4 separate regions of the Homo sapiens genome follow, and all the other regions are linked to region 1. Evidence: fine-mapped expression QTL. A gene starts in region 1. Each other region holds a variant in brackets. All regions are shown on one strand. Distances are between the middles of the regions.

What was found.
Region 2: its variant is fine-mapped to the expression of ANAPC7 in whole blood (INTERVAL, PIP 0.94).
Region 3: its variant is fine-mapped to the expression of ANAPC7 in skeletal muscle (FUSION, PIP 0.95).
Region 4: its variant is fine-mapped to the expression of ANAPC7 in subcutaneous fat (GTEx, PIP above 0.99).

Annotation. Positions count from the first base shown.
Region 1 is chr12:110,399,558-110,407,662 of GRCh38, forward strand. ANAPC7 (anaphase promoting complex subunit 7) reads right to left here and starts at 4,151. Exons shown (of 11, transcript NM_016238.3): 1 at 3,970-4,151. The coding sequence starts at 4,070.
Region 2 is chr12:110,845,473-110,853,577 of GRCh38, forward strand. It overlaps CCDC63 (coiled-coil domain containing 63), which reads left to right and starts at 1,515. Exons shown (of 12, transcript NM_152591.3): 1 at 1,515-1,633; 2 at 7,387-7,491; 3 at 7,933-8,102. The coding sequence starts at 7,483. RefSeq lists an enhancer at 7,477-8,105. The variant C/CT (reference allele first, on the strand shown) is at 4,026.
Region 3 is chr12:110,771,091-110,779,195 of GRCh38, forward strand. No RefSeq gene overlaps it. Among named protein-coding and RNA genes, the nearest start is that of PPP1CC, 32 kb to the left of the region's middle. RefSeq lists an enhancer at 5,368-5,707. The variant GA/G (reference allele first, on the strand shown) is at 3,713.
Region 4 is chr12:110,643,465-110,651,569 of GRCh38, forward strand. TCTN1 (tectonic family member 1) reads left to right here. Exons shown (of 15, transcript NM_001082538.3): 12 at 1,503-1,665; 13 at 3,732-3,872; 14 at 4,285-4,429; 15 at 5,579-5,966. The coding sequence ends at 4,428. HVCN1 (hydrogen voltage gated channel 1) reads right to left here. Exons shown (of 8, transcript NM_032369.4): 6 at 7,753-7,984; 7 at 6,704-6,816; 8 at 5,222-6,011. The coding sequence ends at 5,946. Among named protein-coding and RNA genes, the nearest start is that of TCTN1, 33 kb to the left of the region's middle. RefSeq lists an enhancer at 4,540-4,599. The variant C/T (reference allele first, on the strand shown) is at 4,655.

The sequences.
Region 1 (8,105 bases):
GATAATGAAAACCTTCTGGAGTTAGATCATGGTGATGATCATACAATTTTGTAAATACACTAAAACCCACAGAATTGCATTATTGTGGCCATGTGCGGTGGCTTATGCCTATAATCCTAGCTACTTAGAGGCTGAGGCAGGAGAATCGCTTGAACCTGGGAGGTGGAGGTTGCAGTGAGCCAAGATCCCACCACTGCACTCCAGCCTGGGTGACGAGAGAGAGACTCTGTCTCAGACAAAAAAAAAAAAAAAAAGGGGCCAGGCGCGGTGGCTCACGCCTGTAATCACAGCACTTTGGGAGGCCAAGGAGGGAGGATCACCTGAGGTCAGGAGTTCGACCAGCCTGGCCAACATGTTGAAACCTCGTCTCTACTAAAAATACGAAAATTAGCCAGGCATGGTGGTGGGCGCCTGTAATCCCAGCTACTTGGAAGGCTGAGGGAGAACTGCTTGAACCCAGCAGGCGGAGGTTGCAGTGAGCCGAGATCACGCCACTGCACTCCAGCCCTGGCGACAGAGTGAGACTCAGTCTCCCCAGAAAAACAGAAAAAAAACAACAAAAAGAGTATAGTCTAGATGACTTAAGTTCTCTTCAAACTCTGTGATTCTATGTATGTAGTGAGAAATAACCATTTGATGCTTAGATACAAAAGTATTATTACATCCACAGAAAGCATTCAGATATGCATATAAGATACATGTCTACTTACACATGCATTAAGTTATCTCTGTAATGACACACGAAAAAATAGTTATTGCCTCTGGAGAAAGGAAATGTTGGGGTGAGGTTCAAGACTCAGGTAAAGATACTGATCTGCATGCCCCTTCTCCACTGTTTGAATTTAACAGTGTCTATTCCTATTCCACAAGAAATTTTAAAGTATAAATCATGAAGGTCAGAACTTAAACATGTCCTGAAGCTAGGAAACTGCCAATCTAACCCAATATGAAAAAGCATGGGCTAAACTTCGTCTAGCCAGAGAATTAAACTGTTTCAAACTATCCTGTAACATCTTTAAGAACTAAGAGTAACTAGGGCCTAAATCTCCAAACGTGGAAACTGTATGCTTTGGCAAATCACTCAGAACCAAGTGAAAGGCTCCAGCATAAACACATAAGGCTGACAGAGACCAGGGCTCCTGTCAACATGAAGTGGATGGTGGCAAAATGTGGGTCTCACTAGTAAGGTCCAAAGCACATTAATGAGGCTGGGCTCGGTGGCTCACGCCTGCAATCCAAGCACTTTGGGAGGCCTAAGTCATGGGGATCACTTGAGGTCAGGAGTTCCAGACAAGCCTGGCCAACATGATGAAACCCCATCTCTATTAAAAAAAAAAAAAAAATTAGCTGGGCGTGGTGGTGCGAATCTGTAATCCCTGCTACTCAGGAGGCTGAGGTGGGAGGATCGATTGAGCCTGGGAGGTGGAGGCTGTAGTCAGCCGAGATCGCACCACTGCACTCCAGCCTGGGCAACAAAGCAAGACTCCGTCTGAAAAGCAAAACAAAACAAAACACCAAAGTGCACTAATGAAAATCCAATGGGCAGCAGCAGCTGCATTGTAAGCACTTAAAGGACTTTTCCCTTCTGACCTAGACCAGCTTCTACAGCAGGCCAAACACTAATACATCTACAGAGTAAAAGTTTCCATTATAACGCCATTTGGAGGTAGCAGACTGGTGGCTCAGAATGGAGACTCTCCAGTCAGAGAAGACCAGGTCCAGGCATCGTACTCCTCCATTTATTGGATGTGTGAACTTGGACAAGGGTATTTCACCTCCCTGAGGTTGTACTCACTTCCTCAACACACTCAATAAGCATGTGAGTGCTTATTGCGCACAGCCACTGCGCTTTCAATTGGTGGGTGATGCGAAGGGTAGAAAAGTGGGAGTACCCGAGAGTCCTGGGAGTCAGAGAAGGCTCTTTAGGAGAGATATCCAGGCTAAAACCTGAAGGAGGAGGCAACGCTGAGATGAGGACCGTCGCAGGAGGAACAGCAAGTACAAGGGCCCAGAGTAGAGAACACGCTTGGTGCATTCAAATAACACAAAGAGGCCAGAAGCGATGGTTCACGCCTGTAATCCTTAAACTTTGGGAGGCCGAGGCGGCGGGATCACCAGAGGTCAGGAGTTGAAGACCAGACTGGTCGGCTGGGCGCGGTGGCTCACACCTGTAATCCCAGCACTTTGGGAGGCCGAGGCGGGCGGATCACGAGGTCAGGAGATCGAGACCATCGTGAAACCCTGTCTCTACTAAAAATACAAAAAAATTAGCTGGGTGCGGTGGCGGGCGCCTGTAGTCCCAGCTACTCGGGAGGCTGAGGCAGGATAATGGCGTGAACCCAGAAGGCGAAGCTTGCAGTGAGCCAAGATCGTGCAGAGCGAGACTCCGTCTCAAAAAAAAAAAAAAAAAAAAAAAAAGACCAGACTGGTCAATATAGTGAAACTCTGTTTCTACTAAAATAACAAAAATTAGCTGGGCGTGTGGCGCTCGCCTGTAATCCCAGCTACTTGGTTGGCTGAGGCAGGAGGATCGCTTGAACCCAGGAAGCGGAGGCTGCAGTGAGCCAAGACTGCGCCACTCAACTCCAGCATGGGCGACAGAGCGAGGCTGTCTCAAAAAAATAAAAATAAATAAACAAATAAAAACAAATAACAGAATAGCCAGGGAGGCTAGAGAGCAGTGAACAGAGTAATGAGATGAAGTCGCAGAGAGTGGAGGGCAGATATTTGCCTTCAGAGGCCATGGGAAAGAATTTTCATAAGTGCAATAAAGGATTTTTTTTTTTTTTTGAGACGGAGTCTCGCTCTGTCGTCCAGGCTGGAGTGCAGTGGTGCTACTTCGGCTCACTGCAAGCTCCGCCTCCCGGGTTCACGTTATTCTTCTGCCTCAGCCTCCCGAGTAGCTGGGACTACAGGCGCCCGCCACCACGCCTGGCTAAATTTTTTTGGTATTTTTTAAGCAGAGACGGGGTTACACTGTGTTAGCCAGGATGATCTCGATCTCCTGACCTCGTGATCCGCCCGCCTCGGCCTCCCAAAGTGCTGGGATTACAGGCATGAGCCACTACGCCCGGCCAATAAAGGATATTAAGCAGGAGAGGGACATGCACTCAAGGATGGAATCAGCTCAGTGCTTCAAGGAAACATGAAAGGCGCCACGCCCACCCATTAATGGAGTCTCCCGTTTCCTTTTTTTGAGACAGGCAGTCGTTCTGTCGCCCACGGTAAAGGACAATGATGCGATCACGGCTCACTGCAGCCTCGACCTCCTGGGTTCAAGCGATCCTCCTGCCTCAGCCTCCCGAGTAGCTGGGACCGCAGGCACGCACCATCACGCCCGGCTAATTGTTTAATTTTTACTTTTCGTAGAGGCAGGGTCTCCCTATGTTGCCCAGGTTGGTCTTGAACTCCTGGGCTCAAGCGATCCTCCCGCCTCGGCCTCCCAAAGGGCTCGTATTAGAGGCGTGAGCCACCGCGCCCGGCCCCGTTTTCAGGGGTTTCCCAAGGCCAGAAAGTGGACCCTCCTGATACACTTAACGGGGGGACCAATCTCAGATGCGGGGGCTAGCGCATAAAAACCAGGAGGCTGGGTCCCTGAGCTGCAGCGAGAGAAAAAAACGTTCTTCTGGAAGGAGCCGAGAGGGAAGGATTCAGCCTAGCGATGTGACAGTCGCGCTGCCCCGCGACAGGTGCCTCAGGAAACCCTCGCCTGGGTCGTCCTCAGAGCCTCTGCCTTCTATGTCTCCAAGCCGCCGCTCGCCACATCCCCGCGGGACTTGACGCCGGCACCCAGTGAACCCAACTTGCGCTCCGAAGTCTGCTCCGCTCCAGGACGCCCTCGCAGACCCCGGAGCCTCCGCTGGCGCCGGCGGCCGCTCCTTCCCGCCTGTTCCCACGTGCCCTGAGCCCCCGCTCCCAGACCGCCGCCGCTTTCTCCTCAGCCCCAGGCAGCTACCCGCCTCAACTCACGGGTTGTTATTACTCATTGTAAGTAACAAGCTGCTGAGGAGCCGCACGTTGGAGTGCAGCCCCGCGGCCGCCATGTCCCGCACGTGGTCTATCACATTCATCCTGCTCTGCAAAGCCGCGGGCAGCGGCGGCAGCACTGACTCGAAAAGCCGGTAGAGGATCCTTAGGGAAGACTCCAAAATGGCGGCGTCGCCGGGGTCCATCGGGTCCACACGCGGCACCACCCCCAAGCAAGAGGTAACTACTGAAGTGCCCGAATAAAAAGAAACTCGAGTCCCTGCTCCTGTCGTGGTCCTTTTCAGGTGAAATGAGTTGTTATTTTTACGCAAAAATCACGTTATCATCCTAAACTGCAAACTTTACTGAGGATTTACAATGAGACAAAAGGCACCTTATAAGACTACTCGGTCAATTTGAATGAGTCTGAGAGGAATTTGTGCCTCTCAGAAATTAAAATGTGTGGGTATTTACCGAAATAAAATACAGTAAGGTGAGGAAAAACGCTCCAACTGGAATTAAATATTCTAATCGGGCGCCAGGGACAGACCTAACGGCCTTTACAGTGGCGCATGCGCACCAGGCTAGGGCCGCCGCGCCCCTCCTCAGGTGTTTTGTGTTCCTGCCAAGTCAGGCTTCGGCCCTGGGGGAACTCCTTGGTTCGAGGGGTATATTTCCCCATGTAAAATTATTCCCTAGATCCGTGGAAATAAAGGCTGGATCCAGGAATTAGCTGATACCCATATAAACCAGTATGTGTCTGGCACACTTAACGTTTTAGGAAAGTTTTACACAAGTTATTGGGACGCTCACAACAATCCATAAAGTTGAAGTTGTCATTCCCTTCCCACAAGGGAAGAAACTGCCTGCTTAAATTTTGTGCTCAGGTTGTTAAATGGTTGACTTGGAATCAGATCGACTGGTTAATTATGTTGGATCGCAAACTCAAATGTATACAGGGACCAGGGAGGTAACTGAGCCAATGAGGCAGTTTAGGTCGTTGAGTCAGAGTCCGAATATTCTCCACAGTCATCCTCTCAGATCTAGCCTATCGCTCCTTTCTTAAAGGAGACAGTCGTTTTGGTCTAGATTTTGTTTTCATTTGATTTTTACAGTAGTAGATGCAAAAAAAATGCTCTGAAAAAATCACAGTGTATCTTCATCAGCAACTTTTTCAGCTCTTAACATTTTGTCACAGTTGAAGCTCCTGTAGATCCTTTTCCCATCTCATCCCCTACTCTAGTTTCCTGGATGTGTGAGACCTTCTATTTGATTTTGGTGGGCATCATCACTGTGAACTTTTCTTTTTTCTTTTTTTCGAGACGGAGTTTTGCTCTTGTCGCCCAGGCTGGAGTGCAAAATCTCAGCTCACTGCAACCTCTGTCACCCGGGTTCAAGGAATTCTCCCTGCCTCAGCTTCCCGAGTAGCTGGGATTACAGGCGCCTGCCACCACTGTCATGTGCGTCCGTGTGAAGAGACCACCAAACAGGCTTTGTGTGAGCAACAAGGCTGTTTGTTTCACCTGGGTGCAGGCAGGATGGTAGCAGCACGAGCCATAGGCAAAACTCCTCAGACACCAAGTTAAAGAAGGAAGGAGTATATTCGGCTGGGAGCATCAGCAAGGCTCCTGTCTCAAGAGCCGAGCTCCCCGAGTGAGCAATTCCTGTCCCTTTTAAGGGCTCACAATTCTAAGGGGGTCCGCGTGAGAGAGTCGTGATCGATTGAGTAAGCAGGGGGTACATGACATGCACCGGTGGTCAGAGTGAAACAGACCGGGAAGTTTCACAATGTCTTTCTATAATCTGTAGATAACATCAGTTGCTAGGTCAGGGGTCAGTTAAGGCAGGAACCGGCCCTTTTCACTTCTTTTGTGATTCTTCAGTTACTTCAGGCCATCTGGATGTACACATGCAGGCTTGGGTTCAGAGGCCTGACATTCCTGTCTTCTTACGTTAACAAGAAGAATAAAACGAAATAGTCGTAAAGTGTTGCGGCAGCGAAAATTTTTGGGGGTGGTATGGAGAGATAATGGGCGATGTTTTTCAGGGCTGCTTCAAGTGGGATTGGGGGTGGTGTGTGGGAACCTAGAGTGGGAGAGATTAAGCTGAAAGAAGATTTTGTGGTAAGGGACAATATTGTGGGGTTGTTAAAAGGAGCATTTGTCGTATAGAATGATTGGTGATGGCCTGGATGCAGTTTTGTATGAATTGAGAAACTAAATGAAAGACACAAGGTCTGAATTAAGAGAAGGAGAAAAACAGGTATTAAATAACTAAGAATTGGGAGGACCCAGGACATCCAATTAGAGAGTGCTCAAGGGGGTTCAGCATAATTACCTGCTTGGTTGGTGAGTTTTGGGGCTCTATCCTTGACAGAGTCCTTTTTAAGTTGGAGGCTGAGCTTGGTGAGGTGTGTTTTTAAAAGACCATTAGTCCATTCTACCTTTCCTGAAGATTGAGGACAATAATGGGTATGAAGTTTTCACTGAATACCAAGAGCCTGAGAAACTGCTTCGGTGATTTGACTAGTAAAGGCCGGTCCGTTATCGGACTGTATAGAGATGGGAAGGCCAAACCGAGGAATTATGTCTGACAGAAGGGAAGAAATGATTGCGGTGGCCTTCTCAGACCCTGTGGGAAAGGCCTCTACCCATCCAGTGAAAGTGTCTACCCAGACCAAGAGGTTTTTTTGTTTCCTGACTTGGGGCATGTGAGTAAGGTCAATTTGCCAGTCCTGGGCAGGGGCAAATCCCCGAGCTTGATGTGTAGGGAAGGGAGGGGGCCTGAACAATCCCTGAGGAGTAGTAGAATAGCAGATGGAACACTGAGAAGTGATTTCCTTGAGGATAGATTTCCTCAACGGAAAGGAAATGAGAGGTTCTAAGAGGAGGGCTAGCAGCTTGTAACCTACATGGAAGAGGTTATGAAATGACGACAGAATAGAATGGGCCTGTGAGGCTGGAAGAAGATATTTTCTTTGGTCCAAGAACCATTTGTCTTGTGTGGGAAGAGATTGATAGGTAGAAGTTTCAGTGGGGGAGTAGGTGAGAGTGACCAGATGAGAAGGAGAAAAATTGGCCGTGAGGGACAGAAGTTGGAAGGCTAAGCTGCTTCTTTAGCTACCTTGTCAGCGTAAGCGTTGCCCTGAGCGATGGGATCTGATGCCTTTTGATGGCCCTTGCAGTGAATGACTCCAGCTTCCTTTGGAAGTAAAGCGGCCTTGAAAAGAGTTTTTATTAAAGAGGCATTCATGATAGAGGACCCTTGAGTAGTAAGGAAACCTCTTTCAGCCCATATAACAGCATGGTGGTGTAGGATATGGAAGGCATATTTAGAGTCAGTATAAATATTGATGCGTAGTCCCTTTGCAAGAGTGAGGGCCTGAGTTAAGGCAATTGGTTCGGCTTGCTGAGAGGTAGTGCAGGGGGTCAGAGCAGTAGCCTCAATGATAGATGTGGAAGATACTATAGCATAGCCTGCCTTTGCTGGTGAGTGGCAATTAGGCCTGGTGGAACTGCCATCAATAAACCAAGTGTGATCAGGGTGAGGAACAGGAAAGAAGGAAATATGGGGAAATGGAGTGAATGTCAGCTGGATCAGAGAGATACAGTGATGTGGGTCAGGTGTGGTATCCGGAATAATGTGGGGGCTAGCCTAAAACAGTGAGGTCAAGTTGTTTGGACAGAAAGGCTACAGGGTGCGGTCCCAGCTCTTGTGCAAGAATTTTGACCACACAGCCCTGTACTTTGGCTGTGTGTAATGAAAAGGGTTGGGATGAGTTAGGGAGAGCTAGTGTGGGAGCAGCTTCTAGGGCTGTTTTTAAGGAACAGAAAGAGGAGTGGTGAAAAAATTTAGGATCTATGGAGTCAGCTAGGTTTGCTTTTGTGAGTTTATGTAACGTTTTAGTCAGGATGGTAAAACTAGGTATCCAAAAGTGGAAGTACCTAACAATGCATAGGAAGGAAAGGAGTTGTTGTTTTGTAGAAGGGATTGGGGTTTGGGAGATTAGCTGGACACAATCAGCAGGGAGAGCATGTGTGTTTTCACAAAGAGTTATGCCAAGATAGGTAATGGATGAGGAAGAAATTTGGGCTTGACTAAAGTAATGGGAGCTGTCTGTGAAGCCTTGCGGCAGTACA
Region 2 (8,105 bases), 450 kb after region 1:
TAAAATGAGGATGGTCAAGTGTATCCAAAACACTTCATATGAATCATTTGGAGGCAAGGCCTGACATGTAGCTGTTCATAATCTATCCTTATCTTACTTGACATGAATATTGATGTTTCCTTGCAGAAACAGTAATTCGTTTGATCTGGACTGTGTGGCCCGAACCCTGTATGTAATATACTGTCCCACTGACTTCCCTCATGGTTACAACGTGGCTGCCAGCAACATTAGGGGCAACATACTCCCTTGCGTACCATATTATCTTTCTGAAACCAAAAACATGGTAAGTTCTTTTTTTTTTTTTTGAAACGGAGTCTCACTCTGTCACCCAGGCTGGAGTGAGTGTGATCTTGGCTCACGGCAACCTTTGCCTCCTGGGTTCAAGCAATTCTCCTGCCCTAGCCTCCCGAGTAGCAGAGACTACAGGCACCCACCGGGTGTGTGCCACCATGCCGGGCTAAATTTGTTATATTTTTAGTAGAAATACAAAAAAAAAAAAAAAAAAAAAAGAAATACACAGGGTTTCACCATGTTGGCCAGGCTGGTCTTGAGCTCCTGACCTTAAATGATCTACCTGCCTCAGCCTCCCAAAGTGCTAGGATTATAGGCATGAGCCAGCGCACCTGGCCTCCAAAATATGGTAAGTTCTAAAACACACATCCTGTCCCAAGAATTTACGGATGAAGTGGAGACCTTAGCAGGGCTGAGCTACTACAATCCACTCAGGGGGCTAGGAGTTAAAGTGGAAATCACATGGAATCAAAATTACTGTAGAAAACAGGTACCCCCAATAATTTTCCATTAATTCTGTGATTGTTTCTAGAGCTTAGCCCCAGAGAAAGTAGTTGACTTGTGTTTCAGGGCCGATTGTATGAAAAATGTGTATCTTTAAACCACTAAACTCCGTTAGGGCAGTGAAAAGCTCACTTGCCTGGATCACACTTGGGTTCCCGTGTTATGCTCACAGTGGGTGGGGGTCAGGTGGATGTTCTGAAGAAAATTCTCCTGCACTGATGAAGTTATTTTTCTCATGAAATATCTCTTTCCCCCCCCGCCCCAACATTTTTTTTTAATTTATTTTTACTTTATTTTATTTTTCAGAGTAGAAAAAACTGGGCTCCTTTGAGTTAGCTGCGTGTGAAGTCTGTACCTAGCAGGGCTGCTGTGAGCATGAGTGTAGGTGTAGGCTAAGAAGACGGTGAATGGGGTGTGAGTGGGGCGAGGTGGACCAGCGATTGCATGGCGTTGGCCGAGGGAGGGGCTAAGACTGTTGATTGACTCAAGAAGTCACTTAGCGTCATGAGGGTCCGGGTAGTCTGGTAAGGGGTCGCTGGAGAGTGTGTCGCCCCTCTCCCCCAACCAAAAGCTTCCCTCCAACCAGCTGCTCTTGTCCTCTCCTCCCGAGGGCCCTGTGCCCTCCCAGCGGACTTGCAGGGGAGAACGTCCATGTTTGTGCGAGTCACAAAGGCGCCCGTTCCAGGGGTCCCAGAACGCCCGGGCGTGGGGCTGGGGGTGTGGCGCAGCGAGGCCGCGCAGCAAGCAGTCCTCCCGGCACCGTCGGAAGCGCAGTTGCAGCAGCCGTCGGACAAGCGGCCGGAGCAGCCACGGACAAGCAGTCCGGGCCCCGCCACTGGTAAGTTTCGCCGCCCGCCCGGCCGCGCCTGCTGCGCCACAGCTCCCCCTGCCAGGGAAAAGGAAAGAGCGGTCGCGGTCCCCAGTCCATTCATATCTCGCTGCCCTAAGCGTTGAAAGTATCAGGGTCTCCCGCAATCATGCATAAATAAATTGTAGTGTGTAAAATAACTCCAGAGCCGCGCGAGGTGGCTCATGCCTGTAATTCTAGCACTTTGGGAGGCTGAGGCAAGAGGATCGCTTGAGCCCAGGGGTTCGAGACCAGCTCGGGCAAATTCGTCTTTACAAAATATTTAAAAACTTAGCCGGGCGTGGTGGTGCCACCTGTAGTCCCAGCTTCTTGGGAGGCTGAAGGGGGAGGATCGCTTAAGCCCGGGAAGGTTGAGGCTGCAGTGAGCCGAGATTGAACCACTGCACGCTAGCCTGGGTGACAGAGAGAGAGAGAGACGCTCTCAAAAAAGGAAAAAAAAAAAGTTCAACAAATTTTTATTTTCCTCCCATAATAATCCTTAAAAAACAAAAAACAAAACAAACAAACAAAAAACAAGAAAAACAACAACAACAACAAAAAACTGTGTATGTGTTTCTGTGCTCCTGTTTGGCTAGTGCCCTAAGCACATGTTTAATTCCAGGTTGTGCAGCCCTGGCTCAATATGATCCACATAGCTGCCTGTCCCAAGGTCCCTAGGGAATCCTTCGGGGGCAGGCTTGTCTTTTAAAGGCAGGTTGTTAAAATTCAGAAGCAGATGAGGTGCAGGCCTAATTAGATATTAGATAAATGAAGATGATCTCTGCCTGGAGGAAACTTCATTCATTCAAACTGTATTTGCCAAGAGCTGCCCATGCGCCCAGGACTATGGATGCTGTGGTGAATAGACTGAGGCCCAAGGGGCAGGAGGCCCTTGCCTGACGTCCCCTGACCTGGGCTGCTGGGCTTCTCTGCACTTTTCCTCGCACACGCTGTTCCCCAGAAGTGGGCAGCTTTTAGATTCCTAACAGGAACTGCAAATTCAAATTCCTACTGGCTCTAGGCAGTTACAGAAAATGTGAGAATTGTGGGGAGGGGAGCTTAGCCAATAGGGAGGAGTGGGGCCTGTGGCCAGGAGAGTGAGTGCATGACCCACATTTATGTTTTGAAACACTGTGGAACAGAACTGGAGGTAGGTTGAATTGGCCCCATGGACTATGAGTTTCAGACCCTTGAATGAGAGGGTGGTAAGCCAGGGGTCAGGACATCCAGGAGATGCTCTGCAGGCCAAGCTATGAGGATGGGGGTGAGGGGGTGGATCTGTTCCCCAGGGAATGTAGGAGCCCATCCCAGAGGGCACTGATCGAAAGGGAAAGGCCTGGGTTAACATCTGGAACCTGAAGAGAAGCCAGCACCCTAGGGGAGAGTGACTATGTATGCGCATATGGATCAGCAAAAAGGCAGGAGGTGATGGAGCTTTTGGTTCCTGGAGAATGGTGCATAACCCAGCCAATGATCTCATGGGCCAGACAGACTGGTACTTGAAAATCCCACTTCACAAACAGGCTACGTTCGCCCAGCGTCTGTCATGAGCTAGGCACTATGCTAACCACTTTACAGACATTATTTTGCGCTGAGATATGGGTGTGGGTATCCCCATTCTACAGATGAGGAAACTGAAGCTCAGAGAGGTCAAATCACACTGTCAGTGAAGGTCAGATATACCCAGTTCATGTTATTAAGATGGTGCATTACAAATCCACTTAGGACCCAAAGGGCCCTGGAACATAGAACAGCTCCTGGACAATATGAAATTGGAGCTGCCCCAAATTCCAGGGCTGAAAGAGGTCCCAGAGAGAGCATCCTGTGCCCAAACCTTGTTAGTCAGGTAAATCCTCCTACAGCTTCTACTCCTACCTGGAGGACCCTTCCAGAAATGATCAAGATACAGAACCATTGTCTTATACCACTTCCCTGCCTGTGGGAATTTCCCAACATCAGACAATTCAGTTGGCCCCCAAACCCTCAAAAACATCAGGGAAAATCCAGAGGTTCCTACATTACCAGCCACTATTTTCCTATCACCCATTAACCTGAGAACCATTTTCAAGGTATGGACCATGTCAGTTAGGAATGCTTTAGGCTTCAATGAACAAAATATTTGGTGACTGCCTTAAACAACAGTGACTCTTGCTATTTCACCTAACATGATGTCTAGAGGTAGGCAGTTCCAGGGATGGGGCAGTAGCCAACAGTGTCAGTTAGAACCTAAATTTTTTCCTGTCTTTCCTCTTTGCTGTCTTTAGGTGTGACGGTGATATTTCTCTTCATGGTCATGGGAGGGTTGCCACTGAACCATCATGCATGCCTTCACAATAATTTCTAAAAGCAGAAGGAGAGAGGAACACGAACAAGCTCTTATTTC[C/CT]TTTTTTTTTTTTTTTTTTGAGATGGAGTCTTACTCTGTTGCCCAGGCTAGAGTGCAGTGGTGCGATCTCAGCTCACTGCAACCTCCATCTCCCAGGCTCGAGTGATTCTCCTGCCTCAGCCTCTTGAGTAGCTGGGATTACAGGTGCCCACCACCATGCCCAGCTAATTTTTGTATTTTTAGTAGAGACGGGGTTTCACAATGTTGGCCAGGCTGGTCTCAGTCTCCTGACCCCAAGTGATCTGCCTGCCTTGGCCTCTCAAAGTGCTGGGATTACAGGCATGAGCCACTGCGCCCGGCCCAAGTTCTCACTTTTTGTCCCAAAGGAATGGAATATACTTCTCCTTATGTCTCATTGGCCATATCTGGGTCACATGTCTATCATTAGACCAATCATTGACAAAGGGAAGTGGGGTTACCATGATTAGCAGGAAACAATCATGAGTCATCCTCTGGGACTGGGCACATTGAAGGGGTACAAAATCAGATTTGTGTTAGGCAGAAAGAAGTTAGGGTATTCTCTGAGGCATGCTAGCTGCTATAACAAATACATCCCCACATTTCACTGGCTTAACACAACAGAAGTTAATTTCGCATTTGTGTAACAGCCCAATGAGGATGTTCATGGTTGGCAGATGACTTCTTCTACAAGTAGATCTGGGGACCTGTCTTGTGGCTCTGCCTCCTGTAAATGTCAGATGAGGCAAGAAAGGATGGAAAGGTCACATCCACTTCTTAAAAGTCATGATCTGGAAGTGACAGACTTCCCCTCTGCTCACATCCCATTGGTGAGAATTCATCAGAGAGCCCTGCCTGGATCTGAGAGGAGCAGGGAGGCGAAGCCCTGGTTGGGCAGCTAACTCACACAACAATGCCACATGGAGGGAAGCGACTGTTGGGGAGGCAATGAACTGATCTCTTCCAGGCTGATCTATCTCATCCTTGCTTTTAAGAAGCATCCAGGCTGGACGTGGTGGTTCACGCCTGTAATCCCAGCACTTTGGGAGGCCGAGGTGGGCGGATCACCTGAGGTCATAAATTCGAGACCAGCCTGACCAAAATGGTGAAACCCCGTCTCTACTAAAAATACAAAATTAGCCGGGCATGGTGGTGCATGCCTGTAATCCCAGCTACTTGGGAGGCTGAGGCAGGAGAATCGCTTGAACCCGGGAGGCAGAGGTTGCAGTGAGCCGAGATTGTGCCGTTGCACTCCAGCCTAGGCAACAAGAGCGAAATTCTGTCTAAAAATAAGTAAATAAATAAATAAAAATAAAGAGCAGCGTCCAGTCTTTTACAGATCTCTTTGCTAGCCACTTTCCACTAGATACTGCCTATACTTGAGCGCAAATCGTTTTCTGAACACTCCTTTCAGTCACTTCCTTCTCACCCTTTGCCCGAGCAGTTCTCTCTGCCCAGAATACGCCCCCAACCTCCAACTTTTCTTCTCTGCCTGGTGAACTCCTATTCATTCCTCAAAACCCAAGTTAAAAGTCATCTTCTTTGTGGAGCCTTTTTTACTATTTTGTCATAGGCAGGATTTATGGCACTTTGCAGGCTGACTTACCACTGAATTCCACAGTGTGTAGCATACAGTGGGGGCTCAGTTTATGTGCTAAATAGATGTAAGTACTTCAGGTATGAGAACTCATTTGGTTGCAAGCAATAGAAAATGCATCTCAGGTTGCTTTAATGGAATATACTGATTTCTGTAATTGGACATTACCCAGAGGTATGTTCAGGCTTGGCTAAATGCTGGTGCTTGCTTGGATGATGTTCTCAAGCCTCAAGATTCAGTCTGTCTTCATTTTGTCTTCTCTCCTCCATTTTAGCTTGGTTCTCAGCCTCTTGCAGAGGCGAGATGGCTGTCAGCCCCTCCTGACCTTATCCACCGAGGTTCAAGTGCAGCAGGAAACAAAGTCTCTCTCTTCTTGAGTGTTCCAGCTTAAATTCCACCATTCACTCTGGTTGGACTAGCTAGCTTCATGTGCCCATCCACCCCCGAAGAAATCCCAGGCTAGAGGGCTGAGATCATGCAGATTGACTGGGATCTGGTGCTCTGATTCTCCCATCCAGAGTCGGATGCCCCAATCTTGAAGGTGGTGGGGTATGGTCAGCCCCCAGGAGTGCAGGAAGGTGTGGCTTCCCATGGGAACTTCAGGGTATTGTTACCAGGAGATAGAGGAACACCCCTCTCACCCTCATCAACATTCACCACCCTGCACCTTCGCCCTCTGAAACAATCCATATCCTGCCATATCATCCTAGCCACTGTGTACTGAGCACTTACTACGTCCCAAGCACAGTGCTGAGTGTCTTACACACTCAATGACATGGCTTCTAGAATTTCTCCCATTTTCCAGGTGAGGAAAATGAGGACTACAGAACTGAAGTGGCTTGCCCGAGGTTAATAAGTGGCTTTGGAGGAATTTGAAATGAGATCTGATGATTGGCACAACCAATGCTTTAAACCATTGCATTGCAGGACCCTCAATGGTGGCAAAGCTGGAATTTCTGCTTTTGGAACCCAGCTCCTGCAGTCTGGAATTGGCTGTGCAGTGGGTCTCACAACCTCAAAGGATGTGATGTGTGGGATTAATGCTGTCCCTTGCTCTGAATAACTATGGGCTAGATGAAGTTCAAGTGGTGACATGATAAGAATACTGACTCCTGCTCTAAGATGGGAGGGTGGGGATTCCCTGACAGCTGCAATTGAAGTTGGGCACATTTCTATTTAACCCCATCAGGGGACACACTGCCCCGATGCCTTTTTTTTTGTGAGATGGAGTCTCACTCTGTCACCCAGGCTGGAGTGCAGTGGCGCGATCTCGGCTCACTCACTGCAATCTTTGCCTCCAGGGTTCAAGCAATTCTCCTGCCTCAGCCTCCTGAGTAACTGGGATTACAGGTGTGTGCCACCACACCTGGCTAATTTTTTTGTATTTTTTGTAGAGACAGAGTTTCACCATGTTGACCAGGCTGGTATCGAACTCCTGACCTCAAGTGATCTACCGACCTTGGCCTCCCAAAGTGCTGGGTTACAGGCATAAGCCACCATGCCCGGCCCCCTGATGCCATTTTGCCCCCTCTTTGGGTACACAGGGAGCAGGAGGGTAACTGACACGCCAGAACCATCTGCCCAGCTCCTAATAATAAATGGTGAGAGAACCAGGTTCCAGGCAAACATTGCTTTAAAACAAATAAGTGCCTTTTGTCACACCCGGGCAGCCATCTGGGTATCCTCCTCATGTGCCAAGGTGTGGGTGGAGGAAGGGATGGCAGGGGGAGGGAGGAGGTGCCGTTCTGACCTGCACCCCCAGCAGGGGTGGCTTACAAGTTCTCTTCCTTTTGCCACCATGAACAGGGCATTGCAGAGAGACAGAGAGAGAGAGGAAGGCTCACTGGCTTTGAGCTCTCTGGGTACAGTGTCTGAGTGGAGGCAAAGTGCGGTTCCTTCAAGATGTCTGTGGTAGGTGATGCCAGCTCCCAGCCACAGAGCACCTACTATGGGGTCAGGCACTGTGCCATCCACTTTACACGTTAGCTCGTCTCATCCTGACAAACAGATCTGTGCTCACCCATTTTGTAGGTGGGAGGCTGGAGGCTCAGAGACATCCAGTGACTCACCCAAGTTCCCACTAGATGGCACAGTCAGAGTTTGAACCCAGAACCCCAAAGAATACCCTCCCCTCACCACAGTATGCAATTACAAGTCAGTCATCTCTCCACCCTAGCAAGCCAGGGTGGGTTTTCCATGTAATAGACAAGCAGCTGACATCACCCAAGGGAAGGTCTTCCACTTCTAGCCATGGCCCAGCCACCCCCACTGCCCTTCACTCTTAAGCCCATCTGTGGGCTTCTCTAGCCACCTGGCCCACTACGGCCTCCCACTCCTCTCCATCTCCCCCAGTTGAAGAAGAACAGGAGAAAAGACTCCGACACTCCCCAGGAACCTTCGGAGAAGGCCAAAGAGCAGCAGGCGGAGGCAGAGCTCCGGAAGCTAAGGCAGCAGTTCAGGAAGATGGTGGAAAGCCGGAAGTCTTTTAAGTTCCGAAACCAGCAGAAGATTGCGAGTCAGTAGTA
Region 3 (8,105 bases), 370 kb after region 1:
TGGAAAGGCTAATCAGAAACTCAAAAGAATGCCCCCTATTTGTCTCTCACCTACCTGTGACCTGGAAGCCCCTTTCTTTCCCCCACTTCCAGTTGTCCCGCCTTTCTGGACCTAAACAATGTTCATCGTACATATGTTGATTGATGCCTCATGTCTCCCTAAAATGTATAAAACCAAGCTGTGCTCTGATCGCCTTGGGCACATGTCATCAGGGCCTCCTGAGGCTGTGTCATGGGCACACATCCTCAACCTTGGCAAAATAAACTTTCTAAATTAACTGAGACCTGTCTCAAATTTTCGGGGTTCACAGTACATATGGGCAGACTTGGGCTCAATGGCACTTCCATAATTATCAGATACCTGGGCTCCTTCCATCTTATTTTTATGCTATCCTCAACAGTTGTCAGCCCTCTTGAGACACAAGACAGCTGCTGTAGCACCTGCCGTCATGTGTGTATTCCAGCCAGAGAGAAGCTTGCAAAGGGGAAGCAAAGAGCATGCCCCTTAGTTTTAAGGACACTTCCTAGAACTTGTACATACCATTTCTGTGTACATCCCATTGGCTGGAAGGTAATCATAAGATCATATCACTACCACAGAGCTGCAATTGTTACCGGAAAGGAGTCCTGATCCAGACCCCAAGAGAGGGTTCTTGGATCTCGCACAAGGAAGAATTCAGGGCAAGTCCGTAAAGTGAAAGCAAATTTATTAGAGAAGTAAAGAAAAGAAAAAAAGAATGAGCCAGGTGCAGTGGCTCATGCCTGTAATCCCAGCACTTTGGGAGGCTGAGGCAGGCAGATCATTTGAGTCCAGGAGTTCAAGACCACCCTGGGCAATATGGCAAAACCCCATCTCCACACACACAAAAAAATTAGCCGGGCATGGTGGCATGTGCCTGTAGTCTCAGCTACTCAGAAGGCTGAGGTGGGAGGATCACTTGAGCCCAGAAGGCAGAGGTTGCAGTGAGCTGAGATTGTGCCATGGCACTCCAGTCTGGGTGACAGAGTGAGACCCTGTCTCAAAAAAATTAAAACAAATTAAAGGCTGGGCACAGTGGCTCACGCCTGTAATCCCAGCACTGTGGGAAGCCAAGGTGGGTGGATCACGAGGTCAGGAGATCGAGACCATCCTGGCTAACACAATGAAACCCTGTCTCTACTAAAAATACAAAAAATTAGCTGGGCGTGGTGGCACCTGCCTATAGTCCCAGGTACTCAGGAGGCTGAGGCAAGAGAATCGCTTTAACCCAGGAGGCGGAGGTTGCAGTGAGCCGAGATCATGCCACTGCACTCCAGCCTGGGTGACAGAGTGAGACTCTGTGTCAAAAAAAAAATTAAAATTAAAATAATAGCTTCTCCACGAACAGAGAAGCTGTGAGAGCTGCTGGTTGGCTATTTTTATAATTATTTCTTGATCATATGCTAAAGGGATGGATTATTCATAGGTGTTTTGGGAAAGGGGGAGGGATTTCCTGGAACTGAGAGTTCTTCTTCCTTTTAGACCAACACAAATTAAAGAAAGAGGAAAGAAACATGAAAGGTGGCTCACCAGTCAAGACAGGTTTATTTTAGAGAAAACAAACCTGAGAGGAGCTTCTGGCGAGTTGTCAAAGGCACACTCTCTTACAGACTAAGAGTTTTTAAGGATTCAGGGTGGGAGAGTTTATCAGAGGCTTGGGCTGCTTCTGTGTCTCTTTGTTGTGCTTATCTGGGAGGGAGAGTTGTGTGTTTGTTGCCAAACATCTTCCTGCAGCTGCAGGCATATCCTCTGAGTCTACTTTTAGCTTCCCTATCTTAGTGCACCTGAAGGGAAAGGAATATGCTTATTTAAGGCCCACTGTTTTACTGGGGCCCATTGTATGAGGGTGAAGTTCGGCAGTTACCTAAGAGACATTCCCCCCACATCCCTCTGTGCCCGAGCTATCTTATCTGTGTTTTACTCTCTGCTCTTTCTGGCTGCTTGTAGTTAGAAGAGAAGTGATCTCCTTGAAATGAATGAAGCTGGAAAGGGAGCTGGAACTTAAAGCAGCTTTAAGCTGCTTTAACAAATCTCTGTTTGTCAGAGATTACAGTGCTCCTGCTCTGTCAGTAGCTTCCAGACGTTGCCGTGGCATTTGTAAACTGTTGTGGTGCTGGTGGGAGTGTCTTTTAGCAGCTAATGCATTATATTAAAACACACACACACACACACACACACACACACACACACACACACACACACACACAGAGGGGTGAAGTCATTTGCTCAAGGTCACATGGCCAGGAAGCAGCCATTGCTGCTATATCTATCTATCTATCTAGACAGATATAGATAGATAGATATATAGTTTTTGGTTTGTTTGTTTTGAGACAAAGTCTCACTCTGTCATCCAGGCTGGAGTGCAGCAGCACAATCTCAGCTCGCTGCAACCTCCACCTCCCAGGTTCAAGTGATTCTTCTGCCTCAGCCTCCCAAGTAGCTGGGATTACAGGTGTGTGCCACCATACCTGGCTAATTTTTGTATTTTTACAGGTCATAAAAACCCCACTGATAAAACAGGATGCAGTAAAGAAGCCAGCCAAAACCTGCCAAAACTAAGATGACAATCAAAGTGACTTCTGGTCATACTGACTGCTCCTTATACACTAATTATAATGCATTAGCTTGGCCAGGCACAGTGGCTCATGCCTGTAATCGCAGCACTTTGGGAGGCCAAGGCAGGCAGATCACCTGAGGTCAGGAGTTCAAGACCAGCCTGGCCAACATGGTGAAACCCCATCTCTACTAAAAAATACAAAAAATTAGCTGGGTGTGGTGGTGGGTGCCTGTAGTCCCAGCTACTCGGGAGGCTGAGGCAGGAGAATGGCGTGAACCCAGGAGGAAGAGCTTGTAGTGAGCCGAGAATGCCCCACTGCACTCCAGCCTGGGCGACAGAGCAAGACTCTGTCTCAAAAAAAAAAAAAAAAAAAAAAAGAAACTAACACTTACTCTTCAAATGTAAACTCCATATTAATTCAGAGCAGGGGCTGGGCCTTGCAATGGGTAGGGCAGAGAAGCAGGTATCGAATTGTCTGATTGGTTTCTCCTCTGGCCCCCAAACTAACAAAACAACACCCCCACCCCCAAAAGGCTGTGGATGAGGACGGGCACAGTGGCTCATGCCTGTAATCCTAGCACTTTGGGAAGCTGAGGTGGGCAGATCACATGAGGTCAGGAGTTCAAGACCAGCCTGGCCAACATGGTGAAACCCCATCTCTACTAAAAATACAAAAATTAAGCTGGGCACGGTGGCTCACACCTGTAATCCCAGCACTTTGGGAGGACGAGACGAGCGGATCACGAGGTCAGGAGTTCAAGACCAGCCTGGCCAACATGGTGAAAACCCGTCTGTACTAAAAATACAAAATTAGCCAGGCGTGATGGCAGGCACCTGTAATCCCAGCTACTCAGGAGGCTGAGGCAGGAGAATCACTTGAACCTGGGCAGCAGAGGTTGCAGTGAGCCAAGATCGAGCCACTGCACTCTAGCCTGGGCGATAGAGTGAGACTCTGTCTCAAAAAAAAAAAAAAAAAAAAGCCAGGTGTGGTGGTGCACACCTGTAATCCCAGCTACTCAGGAGGCTGAGGCAGGAGAATCACTTGAACCGGGGAGGTGGAGGTTGCGGTGAGCCGAGATCATGCGACTGCACTCCAGCCTGGGTGACAGACCAAGACCCAAAACTCCGTCTCAAAAA[GA/G]AAAAAAAAAAAAAAAAAAGGGCTGTGAATGAGATGGGCTTGTATTATCCCATTGGAACCTGGCTTTTCCAGGACTTTCTTCTGACTATACTCATCTCTGAGGCGGGTCCCTGTGAATGGTTTTCTTGTCCTGTCATCCACAGGGTTAATCCCTTGAGGGATGTGTTCAGATTGCTGCTTGGCTGCTTCCTGGCTGTGTGACCTTGGGCAAATGACTTCACTTCTCTGAGCTTCAGTTTCCTCCTCTGCAAAATGGAGGTAAGAATAGTGCTTAGCTCATGCAACTGTTGTGAAGGAATGGAAGAGATAAGCAATGGGAAGTGTTTAGCCTGCAACCTCATCTTAGAGCACCTGATACAATCGAACTATCATTACCATTCTCAGATAATTTTTTAAAATAGTGTCTCCTCAAGCAACTGTTTAGAACAGCGCTATCCATTAGAAATAGAATTCAAGGCCGGGCACGGTGGCTCACGCCTGTAATCCCAGCACTGTGGGAGGCCAAGGCGGATGGATCCCTTGAGGCCGGGAGTTCGAGACCAGCCTGGCTAACATGGTGAAACCCCCTCTCAACTAAAAATACAAAAATTAGCCAGGTGTGATGGTGGGCGCCTGTAGTCCCAGCTACTTGGGAGGTTGAGGCGGGAGAATCGCTTGAATCTGGGAGGCAGAGGTTGCAGGGAGCCAAGATCTCGCCACTGCACTCCAGCCTGGGCAACAGAGTGTGTTTAAAAAAAAAAAAAAAGAATTCAAACCACATATGGACTTTTAATTTTTCCAGTAGCCTCATTAAAAAAGCTGAAGTTAATTTAAATGATATATTTAATTTAACCTGATATATTTTAAAAATGACCATTTTAACACGTAATCAATATAAAGAAAGCATTCTGGTCGGGCACAGTGGCTCATGCCTGTAATCCTGGCACTTTGGGAGGCCGAGTCGGGTGGATCACCTGAGGTCAGGAGTTCAAGACCAGCCTGGCCAACATGGTGAAACCCCGTCTCTACTAAAAATACAAAAATTAGCCGGGCACGGTGGTAGGCACCTGTAATCCCAACTACTTGAGAGGCTGAGGCAGTAGAATAGCTTGAATCTGGGAGGTGGAGGTTATAGTGAGCCAAGATCATGCCATTGTACTCCAGCCTGGGTGACAAGACAGTCCATCTCAAAAAAAAAAAGAGAGAGAGAAAAAAAAGAAAGTATTTCAAGGCTAGGTGCAGTGGCTCATGCCTGTAATCCTAGCACTTTGGGAGGCCAAAGTGAGAGGATTGCTTGAAGCCAGGAATTTGAGACCAGTCTGGGCAACATAGTGAAACCCTGTTTCGAAAGAAAGAAAAGAAAGAAAGAAAGAAAGAAAGGAAGGAAGGAAGTAAAGAAAATTAGCTAGAAGTGATTACACATACACAAGTCCCAGCTACTTGTGAGGCCATTACAGCTTGGGTGACAGAGTGAAACCCTGACTCATAGAAATAAGAAAAAAAAGAAAGAAGGAAGGAAAGAAAATGAATGAAAGAAAGAAAGAAAGAAAAGAAATTAATTTAGCACCATAGGAAAGGTTTTTTTTAAAAAAGCATGAGCTATGTTATCCTCTTTTTTTTTTTTTGTATAAGGCTACAAAATCTGGTATTTTGCACTTATATCCCATCTCAGTTCGGACAAGCCACATTTCAAGGGCCCAAAACCCCATTTGGTGAGTGGCAGCCATATTGGATAGAGACAGCCCACCTTCTCTGGTTTTGTCTCTGCAGATAGCCAAGGAAACCTAATTATGCATCCAACTCTCTGGCCCATTGGCTGAGTCACCTGCCGGGAAGCTTTCAGAATATTTATAGGTAACTGATCTACAGAAAACAGAAAGTGATACCATCTCCAGCCCCCACAACCTTTCTTCAGTCTCAAGTTTGCCGTCTCAGCTACTGTTTTCTAGAGGCCCAGTGGGAAGAGTATGCAAAGTGGCAGTAAAGTACATATGTAAACGTGTAGGCAAAAGGCTGAGAGGATTCTTACCAAACTACTCACAGTGGAAAATAAGAGTAATGTCCAAGCAGAGTTTAGTTTTGTCAGTCATGCCCTAATTTTGTTTTTGTTTTTTAGAATGTATTCATTCACATATTACTTGTGTAAGTGAAAGTCAATTGATATATATATAGAGATAATAGTAAAGAAAAGTAACCATGATTTGCGGTAAATCCCCAAGAAGTTTAATGGAAAGCAGTGAGTGCAGAGATTACAAGGTGGACTCTGGGGCCGGCTGCCTGCCTTTGCATCCTAGCCCTGCTGTCTACTAGCTGTGTGACCTTGGGCAAGGTTCTCTTGCTTTCTGGGCCTCAGTTTCCTCATCTATAAACTAAGGATAATGATGGGACCTATGTTACAAGGTTGTCACAATGATTTGATGAGCAGGTGTAAGGTGTTAAGATGGGATCTGGAACACAGAGTCTCAGCTGTAATAACTAAAATAATTAGTATTATCACTGTTTTTGGTGGAAGAGTAAGTAGCAAGAAACTCTCTTGGTGAAAATACAAGAGCTGCGGTGGCTCACGTCTGTAATCCCAGCACTTTGGGAGGTCGAGGCGGGCAGATCACTTGAGGTCAAGAGTTTGAGACCAGCCTGGCCAACATGATGAAACCCTATCTCTACTAAATATAGAAAAAATTTGCCAGGCGCGGTGGCGCACCCCTCTAGTCGTAGCTACTCAGGAGGCTGAGGCAGGAGAATCGCTTGAACCTGGGAGGCGGAGGTTGCAGTGAGCTGAGATCACGCCACTGCATTCTAGCCTGGGCGACAGAGCGAGACTCCATCTCAAGAAGAAAAAAAAAGGAAATAATATGCTGGAGTGAGAGCTGCAAGACCAGCTGCTAAGCCTGGATCTGCCATTACCTAATTTGTGTAAACTTGGGCCTCAGTTTTGTACTAATTCTAACAACAACATACATTTTCTAGTCCTTACTATCATTTCGGAACTCTACATGTCTCGTTTCATCAGATCTTCACAACACCCCTCTGAGAGAGAGATACTGTTGTTGTTGTTGTTATTATTACTATCTTGAGACGGAGTCTCGTTCTGTCGCCCAGGCTGGAGTGCAATGGCACGATCTCGGCTCACTACAACCTCTGCCTCCCGGCTTCAAGTGATTCTCCTGCCTCAGACTGCCGAGTAGCTGGGATTACAGGTGCCCGCCACCACACCCAGCTAATTTTTGTATTTTTAGTAGAGACGGGGTTTCACCATGTTGGTCATGCTGGTCTCGAACTCCTGACCTCAGGTGATCCCCTGCTTCAGCCTCCCAAAGTGCTAGGATTACAGGTGTGAGCCACCACGCCTGGTCGAGATACTGTTATTATTACCATTCTATAGATAAGGAAACCGAGGCTCAGAGAGCTGACACGGCTTGCCCAAGTCGGCAGCTTCTAAGTCCCAGGAAAGGGATTTGAACTCAGTGTTGTCTAGCCGACATGAGAGGCTGAGGCAATGCTCTCTGCACCATGCAGCCCCATGTGTGAGGTCTTTTCCAGCTTTGCTTTGTCTGTGATGCTGGCAGTTGAGTTGCATGATAAGAGCTAGGAGTTTGGGGTTGGAGTACAGGTTCTTTTGAGCTTTTGGACCCTAGAGTTCTTTCATCTGTATAATGGGGCCAAGAACAATGCAGTGCCCTGAATTTGAGTTTTGTATTTGCTTTTGTTTTTGTTTTTTTGAGACAGGGTCTTGCTGCATCGCCCAGGCTTGAGTGTAGTGGTGTGATCTCGGCTTACTGTAACCTCCACCTCCTGGGTTCAAGCAATTCTCCCACCTCAGCCTCCTGAGTAGTTGGGATTACAGGTGCCCACCACCATGCCAGGATAATTTTTGTATTTTTAGTAGAGAAGGGATTTCATCATGTTGGTCAGGCTGGTCTCGAACTCCTGGTCTCAAGCAATCCACCCACCTTGGCCTCCCAAAGTGCTGGGATTACAGGTGTGAGCCACCATGATTGGCGCTGAATTTGAGGGTTTTCTTTCCAGCTCTCTCCAGGGCTTTCTTTAGACTTTCTTCCTCATTTTGTCTCATCTTTCCAAACACCTCACTCACAAGATCACTTGAAGATCACAGGAAGCCAGTGGAAGGTATCTGAGATGATTAAACAGCACCAGGTTTTTTAGCTATGTTATGTAAGAAGAGGAAAAGAGGGAAGTTGCAGGGGAAGAAATTTGAATCAGATTACATTAAAGGATACAAGTGGGGCTTTCAGACAATGGTGACTTTTGCACAGGGTCTCATGAGGCAACACACGGGGGCACACACCTGCGTGTCTTCATGTAGATATGCTGTGTGAGACACCCCCGCAGCGGATGTTCTGGGGGAAAACAAGGAAGCTGTTAAATGATCCAGCTGTTCTGTCTGAATACGTT
Region 4 (8,105 bases), 240 kb after region 1:
TTTTTTTCAAATTCTACCCCCAAATCTTGAAATAACCTGCATATAATGCTACTTCTTGATTTTTTTGGTTTTATGAATTTTTTATTGTTTCCATTAAGGAAGACAAAGGTTTGGCTCTTTCCCCTTCATCCCCTACCTCATGACCCACACACTTCCCACATCTTCCCAGGGTCATTGGATCATTATTTTGGTTAGACCAATATTTACCATTTACTTATATTATTTTTTGAGACAGGGTCTCCCCCTGTTGCCCAGGCTGGAGTGCAGTGGCGTGATCAGGCTCACTGCAGCCTTGGCCTACAGGCTCAAGCAATCCTCCTGCTTCAGCCTCCTAATAGCTGGGACCACATGCGGGTACCATCACACCTGGCTAATTTTTAAAATTTTGGTAGAGACAGGGTCTCCCTTTGTTTCCCAGGCTGGTCTCGAACTCCTGGGCTCAAGTGCTCCTCTTGCTTCAGCCTCCCAACATGTTGGGATTACAGGTGTGAGCCAGCACATCCAGCCACCATTTACATTATTAGTTCTGATCCATTTAGACCAGCATTTCTCAAAGGGAGAGGGTTCCATGGAATACATTTCCACAAGACATCAGTAGGGGTAGGTCTGTGGTCCAATACGTTTGGGAAACACCAAATTAAAGTTAAAACAATGGTTCCTTCCTGTATTACTCATCAGAGCCTTTAATAGGCAAATGTGCCTCAGGAGGGACATGGGGATGTGGAGGTTCAATGCTTCCCCAACTTTGGCCATGAAACCCTTCTTGTACAGATCTTCAGTGGAACACAGTTTGGGAAACACTGTTTTAGACTCATCATCTCACAGGTAAAGATTTTGCAAAGTTAGAGACTCTTTAGCTTCTGTCAGATAATCCCTCATTTGGAGAATGAGAAGATAATGAAACTGGGAAGGAATGGAACTGCTCGTGGGGCTGAGAGCAGTGGCTCACGCCTGTAATCCCAGCACTTCGGGAGGCTGATGTGGGCAGATCACCTGAGGTTGGGAGTTCGAGACCAGCCTGGCCAACATGGTGAAACCCCGTCTCTACTAAAAATACAAAAAAATTAGCCAGGCATGGTGGTGGGCACCTGTAGTCCCAGCTACTCAGGAGGCTGAGGCAGGAGAATCACTTGAACCTGGGAGGCGGTGGTTGCAGTGAGCCAAGATTGCCTCACTGTACTCCAGCCTGGGCAACAGAGCAAACTCCATCTCAAAACAAAACAAAAAAACCAAAAATCAAAACTTAAAAAACAAAAAACTGCTGGTGGGCTGGGTGTGGTGGCTCACTCCTGTAGTCCCAGCACTCTGGGAGGATTGCATGAGCCCAGGAGTTTGAGGCTGCAGGGAGCTATGATGGTGCCACTGCACTCCAGCTTGGGCATCAGAGTGAGACCTTATCTCAAAAATAAATAAACAAAGGGAAGGAAAGGAAGAAGAAAATGAAAAACTGCTGGTGGATGAACAACAGCCTCATTCAGTTGACTTCTTTTTCCTTCACCAAGACTGACTGGAGCTCTCCCGTGTCAGCTCGTAGCACAGAAGGTGAAGAGCCTGCTGTGGGGCCAGGGCTTCCCAGATTACGTGGCCCCTTTTGGAAATTCCCAGGCCCAGGACATGCTGGACTGGGTGCCCATCCACTTCATCACCCAGTCATTCAACAGGAAGGTAAAGGGGAGAAGGTACAGGTTCCATGCTAGTGGTCTCTGTCTTCCAGGTGGTGTGATGAAGGCAGCCGGGGAAGCCAGCTGTTAAGGAGGCAGGATGGCCCTGAGTGGGAGCGCGGGCTGAATCTTGGATACTGATTTTTGCCCCTTGTTAGCAATGTTGCCTCTGGCCAGCAGTTTTATGGCTTTGAGCCTCTGTTTTCATCTGTGAAATGGGAACGCTAGTCAATAGTGAGTGAATGGCCTCATGGGGCATTGAGAGGGTTAAGTGAGGTAACATTTATGTGGCCCTGGGCATGGTGCCTAGTGGTCCATAAATGGGAACCTCTGTGATCCTCATCCTGTTGCTACCATCATTGTGATTGCTGGTGTCCCCCGAGCCCTCTCCAGGCATCTCATGACACGATAGACGAATGTTGAGTCCTGTATCAAAGACTGAGACTGACTTCCGTGCATGTGGCTCTCCCACCCATTGTCCCCTGTTCTACACAGGCAGCCCACACCTGAGAGTTTTCACTGCCACAGTTCCTCACAGAGTTGAATGGAAGTTGACAATCCTACAGATAGGTTCCCGGTCACACATGATGCTTCTGCCCACCTTTTTCTTTTGTCTTAGCAGTCAGCGTGTGGGCCGGCCCTGGCCCAGGGGCGTGCTCTCCATCTTAGCCTGTAATTGCCCAGCTTGTTCTTGTCACGCTTTCTTCAGACCTCTCATTATCCGCTCCGAATATTTCTAGCATGGGCATAACGGGGGTGAGGACTGCTCACTTCTCTGATCCGCCCTCCCACCGAGGCCAGCAGAGACCCGGGATTACTCAGTCCCTGCCGTTCCACTGCGAAGTCTTGACTCAACTCTCCCACCAGAACCAGGCACATCGCTTCTGGCTTCTTGGCCATGGGTGAAGATGTGCAGTTATTACTCCTCCTCAGAAGGGAAGACATGGGTTGGGAGGAGAGGCAGCAGTGCGCACATGGCACCGTCAGGGTCTGTGCTGATCCTGGGTGCTCAGAGGGCCTGCAGCAGCAGGTTTTGTACCAACTCTGCCGGCAACCCAGGTAGAGGCAGGCACGAGCACCTGCTAAACTCAGTTTCCACCAGCTGCATGCTGCATTGTCTCCTAAGAACAGGGTATTCGAGAGGATTGTTCAGTCTGCATGGTTTTTAAAGGCGGTTCCAAGCTAAGGAATTCCATCAGTGCTTTTTTCGCAGCCACCAAATTTAGCAGGCCTGTGAGGTTTTCATATCCTGAAGAGATGTATTTTAAAGCTTTTTTTTTTTAATGAAAAAATGTCAGACACACACAAAAGTAGAATAGTACCATGGAGTCCCCACGTACCCAGCCTGCAGCTTCAACAGTTACCACATTTGCCAACCGGAGAGACTGCCAAGGCAGGAAAAAGCCCTGGAAAGCCCACGGCCCCTTTTTCCCTTGGGTCAGAGGCCTTAGAGCTGGCTGCCAAAGCAGCCAACCAAAGGGGCAGCTCAGCTCCTTCGTGGCACCAGCAGTGTTCCTGATGCAGTTGAAGAGTTGATGTCTTTGACAACATACGGACACTGCCTGGATTACCTAGATGTCACATCTTAATTGCCAATTGATGAAATTAGGTAAATGAAAAGAAAGCACTTAAATTTCCCCTTAGAGCATTTTAACATGACATGCAATCAGGTTTTGTCTGCTAATAATTATTTCTCCCCCTCCATCCCTCCCACCAGTTTCTTTCCTGAAGTCTGTGAGGCCGCTATAAACAGGTAGATGAAGTTAGAGCAGTTATGGCCCTAAATGGTCCACAGTTGGGTATTGGCACTACCGCAGTTTCAGGTGATGTCGGCATTTTTAGAAATAGGAGGAGATGGAAAAATTACGCTTCAGCTGTTAAAAATATTTTTGGGGCATTGAGTTACTTTAAAACACGTATATTCTCTAAGCTGTTTTTATCTGAACTTGTAGAGTCTATTCATTTTCTTGTTCAGAACATTTTGTAATATGTGAAACCTTTTATAATTAAAACTCTGAACTGCAGATTAAGTCTGACTTGCAGTTTTGTAAGATTCTAATGGATTAACAGCATTTTGTTTTGCAGGATTCCTGCCAGCTCCCAGGGGCTTTGGTTATAGAAGTGAAGTGGACTAAATACGGATCCCTGCTGAATCCACAGGCCAAAATAGTCAATGTAACTGCAAATCTAATTTCATCCTCCTTTCCTGAGGTAGGCCTAACCTAGTTTAAAGGCATAGGTTAAGACAGAAGTCTAGACACAACTCAAGTGTGGTAGGTGACAGGTATTACTTTGTGAAAAAGATTATAATTTAAACCATGGGGGTTCATAAAATATTTCAGCAGTCATTCTTAGAAACACTGACGATGGTTCTACTTACATTAGCATTCTGGTTCAGATTGGATCTTTAAAATTCTCATGAAAATTATGATATTCACGTGTTAATCAGACACCCTGGTAAAATTGTTTCTCTCATCCAAGTTAATGGCCAATTAGTGCTCCAGGACCTATCAGATTCATGAACTGACAGTAGTTGGGTGAGGAAGAGAATGAAAAGTGTCTCATTGTTGTCATTCTGGGAGCACACTGGAGGGTGGGCCTTGCATCTCTCTGTTTATTACAGGCCAACTCAGGAAATGAAAGGACGATTCTTATTTCCACTGCGGTTACTTTTGTGGATGTGTCTGCACCTGCAGAGGCAGGCTTCAGAGCTCCACCAGCCATCAATGCCAGGCTGCCCTTTAACTTCTTCTTCCCGTTTGTTTGACGTAAGTGAGGAAACTACGCCCCTCCTCTGAGGTCATCCCCTTTGGAAAGTGTGCACGTGGGGCTAGAAGTCCCTAGGGGATACTGCATTTTATACTTTTTGAGGGTCTCGCTTTGTTGCCCAGGCTGGAGTGCAGTGGTGTGATCATGGCTCACTGCAGCCTTGACCTCCTGGGCTCAAGCAATCCACCCACCTCAGCCTCCTAATAGCTGGGACTACAGGTGCA[C/T]ACCACAACACCTGGCTAATTTTAATATAGTTTGTAGAGATGGGGTCTTGCTGTGTTGACCAGGCTGGTCTCAAACTCCTGGGCTCAGGTGCTCCTCCTGCCTCGGCCTCTGAAAGTGCTGGGATTACAGGTGTGAGCCACCATGCCTAGCCTTATTATACTTCTAACCTTTGAGGTTGCCTCCAAACCAGCACACTGCCCTTCTCCACTCCCTTCCTGCCTTTTTTCCTTTTGGAAATGTTATTCTATCTGACTTTTGAATGGGGAATATGCTTAACACATAGGTCATAGATGATAGAACCCAAAAAGTCTTTGGGGAGATGGTAAAGAACATGAACAGGACTTGAAGCAGCAGAGGCAAGGGGGATTTGGCCAGTTCATTCATCCCCTGCTTTGAGTTATTTATTTTAAAAATACTCAGTTCAGGTTTTTTCCTTTTTGGGTCCGGTTGAAATGAGTACAAAAAAATAGCAAAATATTAGATAAAATCATGCGAGAAGAGCACACAGCCCTTACAAGGGGATCTTCCCCCAAATACCTTGTTAATTATAGTGGAGTCTTGGGTCTAATTGCCATTTCTGCACCAGGCACTGTAGCTAGCTTGCTCTCCGACTGGCAGGCTGGTATGGGTGCCACAGAGGAAAGAATACAGTAGGAGGGTCCAGGGAAAAGAGAGAGTTTATTTTATACAGTAGTTGTTTTATTTTATACAGTAGTTGTACAGTAATTGAGGAAAAATGTTGTCAGGTGGCAGAAAACAATGGAGCCACCTAGAAGCTGGCTGATGCAGCTGGGGCACACAGAGGAGGGGCCTGGGTACCCCTTTTGGGGAAACTGAGACGAAGCTATTTAGAACAGCTTGAAAATAAGAGACTTTTCTAGAATGGGGTGGCAGCTAAAGTAGCTTCTTTTTCTTTCTTTCAGAATGCTCAGATGCATCAGTTCCTTAATATACACGTGAAATTTGAAAACTGTACATTCGGTGAGATTAAATTTTATATACAACTAGCAATTGTCCAGCTTTGTTGCTCATTTTCAATTAAGGCTAAAGTGTTCAACATGAGAAAATGTGATACATTTGATACAGTGTGGGGTGGGAGTGGATGGGCAGCTCTTGGTGGTACTGGACCTTCCACAAGGCTGTGTCCACCCAGAATCCATGCTGGCAGGAGGGAGGCAGAGGTATCAAACCAAACCTCTCACCAAGCGGCCCAGGAGGGGCAGCTGTTCCTCTCGTGACAGCACAGGCCCATGAGACAGTGTCTTCTTTTTGAGGGGAGCTGGTCCGGGTCTAGTTCACTTCACCAAGAAGTCCATGCTGTCGCAATAGTTTGTTAAGTCTTTCAATTTCTTGTTCCTATTGCAAAAGCAGACAAACACTGGAATTTACTTTGAGCCTCGCCAGGGATGTGACAATCAATCATTCAGTGAGCCCCAGGCACAGGACCACAGAGATGAATGAAAGCTACGCTGTTTGTGGCATTCAGTCTGCTGAGGAGACTGCTACAATCAGATAGGCTTCACTGAGCAGCAGTGACAGCAGTGAGAAGACAAACGTGGGGGACCTGGCAGAGCCCTGGGATGTGGGGGTGGGCACAGCTTCAGGGAGGATGTGACGCCTGGGCTGGATCTGAAAGGACAAGGCAGGCTCAGCCCAGGGAAGGGCGCTCTAGGTGCATGAGCAGCGCTCTGCTGCAGGCGGGTGCTGCGGCAGAGGCCAGCTTCCCAGATATCTTTTTTTTTTGAGACAGAGTTTTGCTCTTGTTGCTCAGGCTGGAGTGCAATGGCGCGATCTTGGCTCACCACAACCTCCACCTCCCGGGTTCAAGCAATTCTCCTGCCTCAGCCTCCTGAGTAGCTAGGATTGCAGGCATGTGCCACCATGCACAGCTAATTTTGTATTTTTAGCAGAGACAGGGTTTCTCCATGTTGGTCAGGCTGGTCTCGAACTCCGGACCTCAGGTGCTCCACCTGCCTTGGCCTCCCAAAGTGCTAGGATTACAGGCATGAGCCACCACGCCTGGTCCCCAGATGTGTCGTCTTTCTTACCTTCTCAGAGCAGCTGAACTCAAGGTGTTGAATCTTGGCGGCCAATTGTACATTCATCTGTTTTAACCTTAAGAGTTGCCGTTCTGAACGTGTCTTAACTGAGATGATAATCCCTGAAATAAAATTGGGGGTCTCAGTGATACTGGTTTCTAACTTAACCACTCAGGAAAAAAATCTGTATTCTTACACCTGTATAGAGTTTGGAGGAGTGGTGACAGACACGCGAGACAGTCATCACTTTAGGGCATCAGAACTGGGAGGTCAGGGTTTTGTGTCTGAGCTACTTAGTACCCAGTTACACAGTATCTCTCTTTAGCTGGCATGGCTGAGAAATCCTTAAAAATAATCACTGACAAGATGAGCATTAGGATTCTTAACCTAGAACCTGTTCACAATCATGTGGGTGCACAACAGCGGTGTCCATAGATGCCACGAAAGCACAGGCTGGGAAATGCCCCCTTTCCCCATAACAGGCATCTTCTGTAGGAACTGAAAGGCTTTTTTTTCTTTCCTTTGACAAGAGTCCAGTTTTTTTTTTTTTTTTTGAGATGGGGTCTGGCTCTGTCACCCAGGCTAGAGTGCAGTGCACAATCTTGGCTTATTGCAGCCTCCAAATCCTGGGCTCAAGCAATCCTCCCACCTCAGCCTCCCCAGTGGCTGGGACTACATGTGTGCACCACCACACCCAACTGATGTTTGTATTTTTTGTTTTGTAGAGATGGGGGTTTCACCATGTTGCCCAGGTTGGTCTCGAACTCCTGGGCTCAAGTGATCCTCCTGACTCAGCCTCCCAAAGTGCTGGGATTACAGGCATGACCACTGCACCCAACCTGTTTCATTTTATTTGCTTGACGTAAACCTGCTTATAACCAGCTCCTAAAGGGCTGAAGAGGAAGAAGGGAGGAGAGGGAGGTGAGGGGGCAGAGGGGAGGCCTCCATAACAGGAGCCACTGTGAGCTCAGGCACCCAGAGTGACTGCGCAGTCAGGCCTTGGATGTATGCCTGGGCCCCTACTCTCCATCCACAGCCTGGGAGTGCAGGAGACGTACCATTGATGATCCGGGCCACCCGCCACAGCCGGAGCAGAATCAGCAGGCCCAGAGCCTCAAACTGGTGCTCCTGGAACAGGAGGACAATGTCGAGGATGAATGAGACCACCACCACGACGGCATCCAGGATCTCAAACTTGTGGTGAAAGAACTCCAGGCGGAAGACAAATAATTTAAAGATGATCTCCATCATAAAAAAGACCAAGATGGTGATGCTCATGTAGTGGAATACCTGAAGGGGACAAGGAACCACAGTCAGGGGAGATTGGGCCTCTGGGAGGTCAAGCTGCCCTCACATGCACCTGCCTGGTCACCAGCAAGAGAATTCCTCTGGTGGACAAATCCAGATGCCC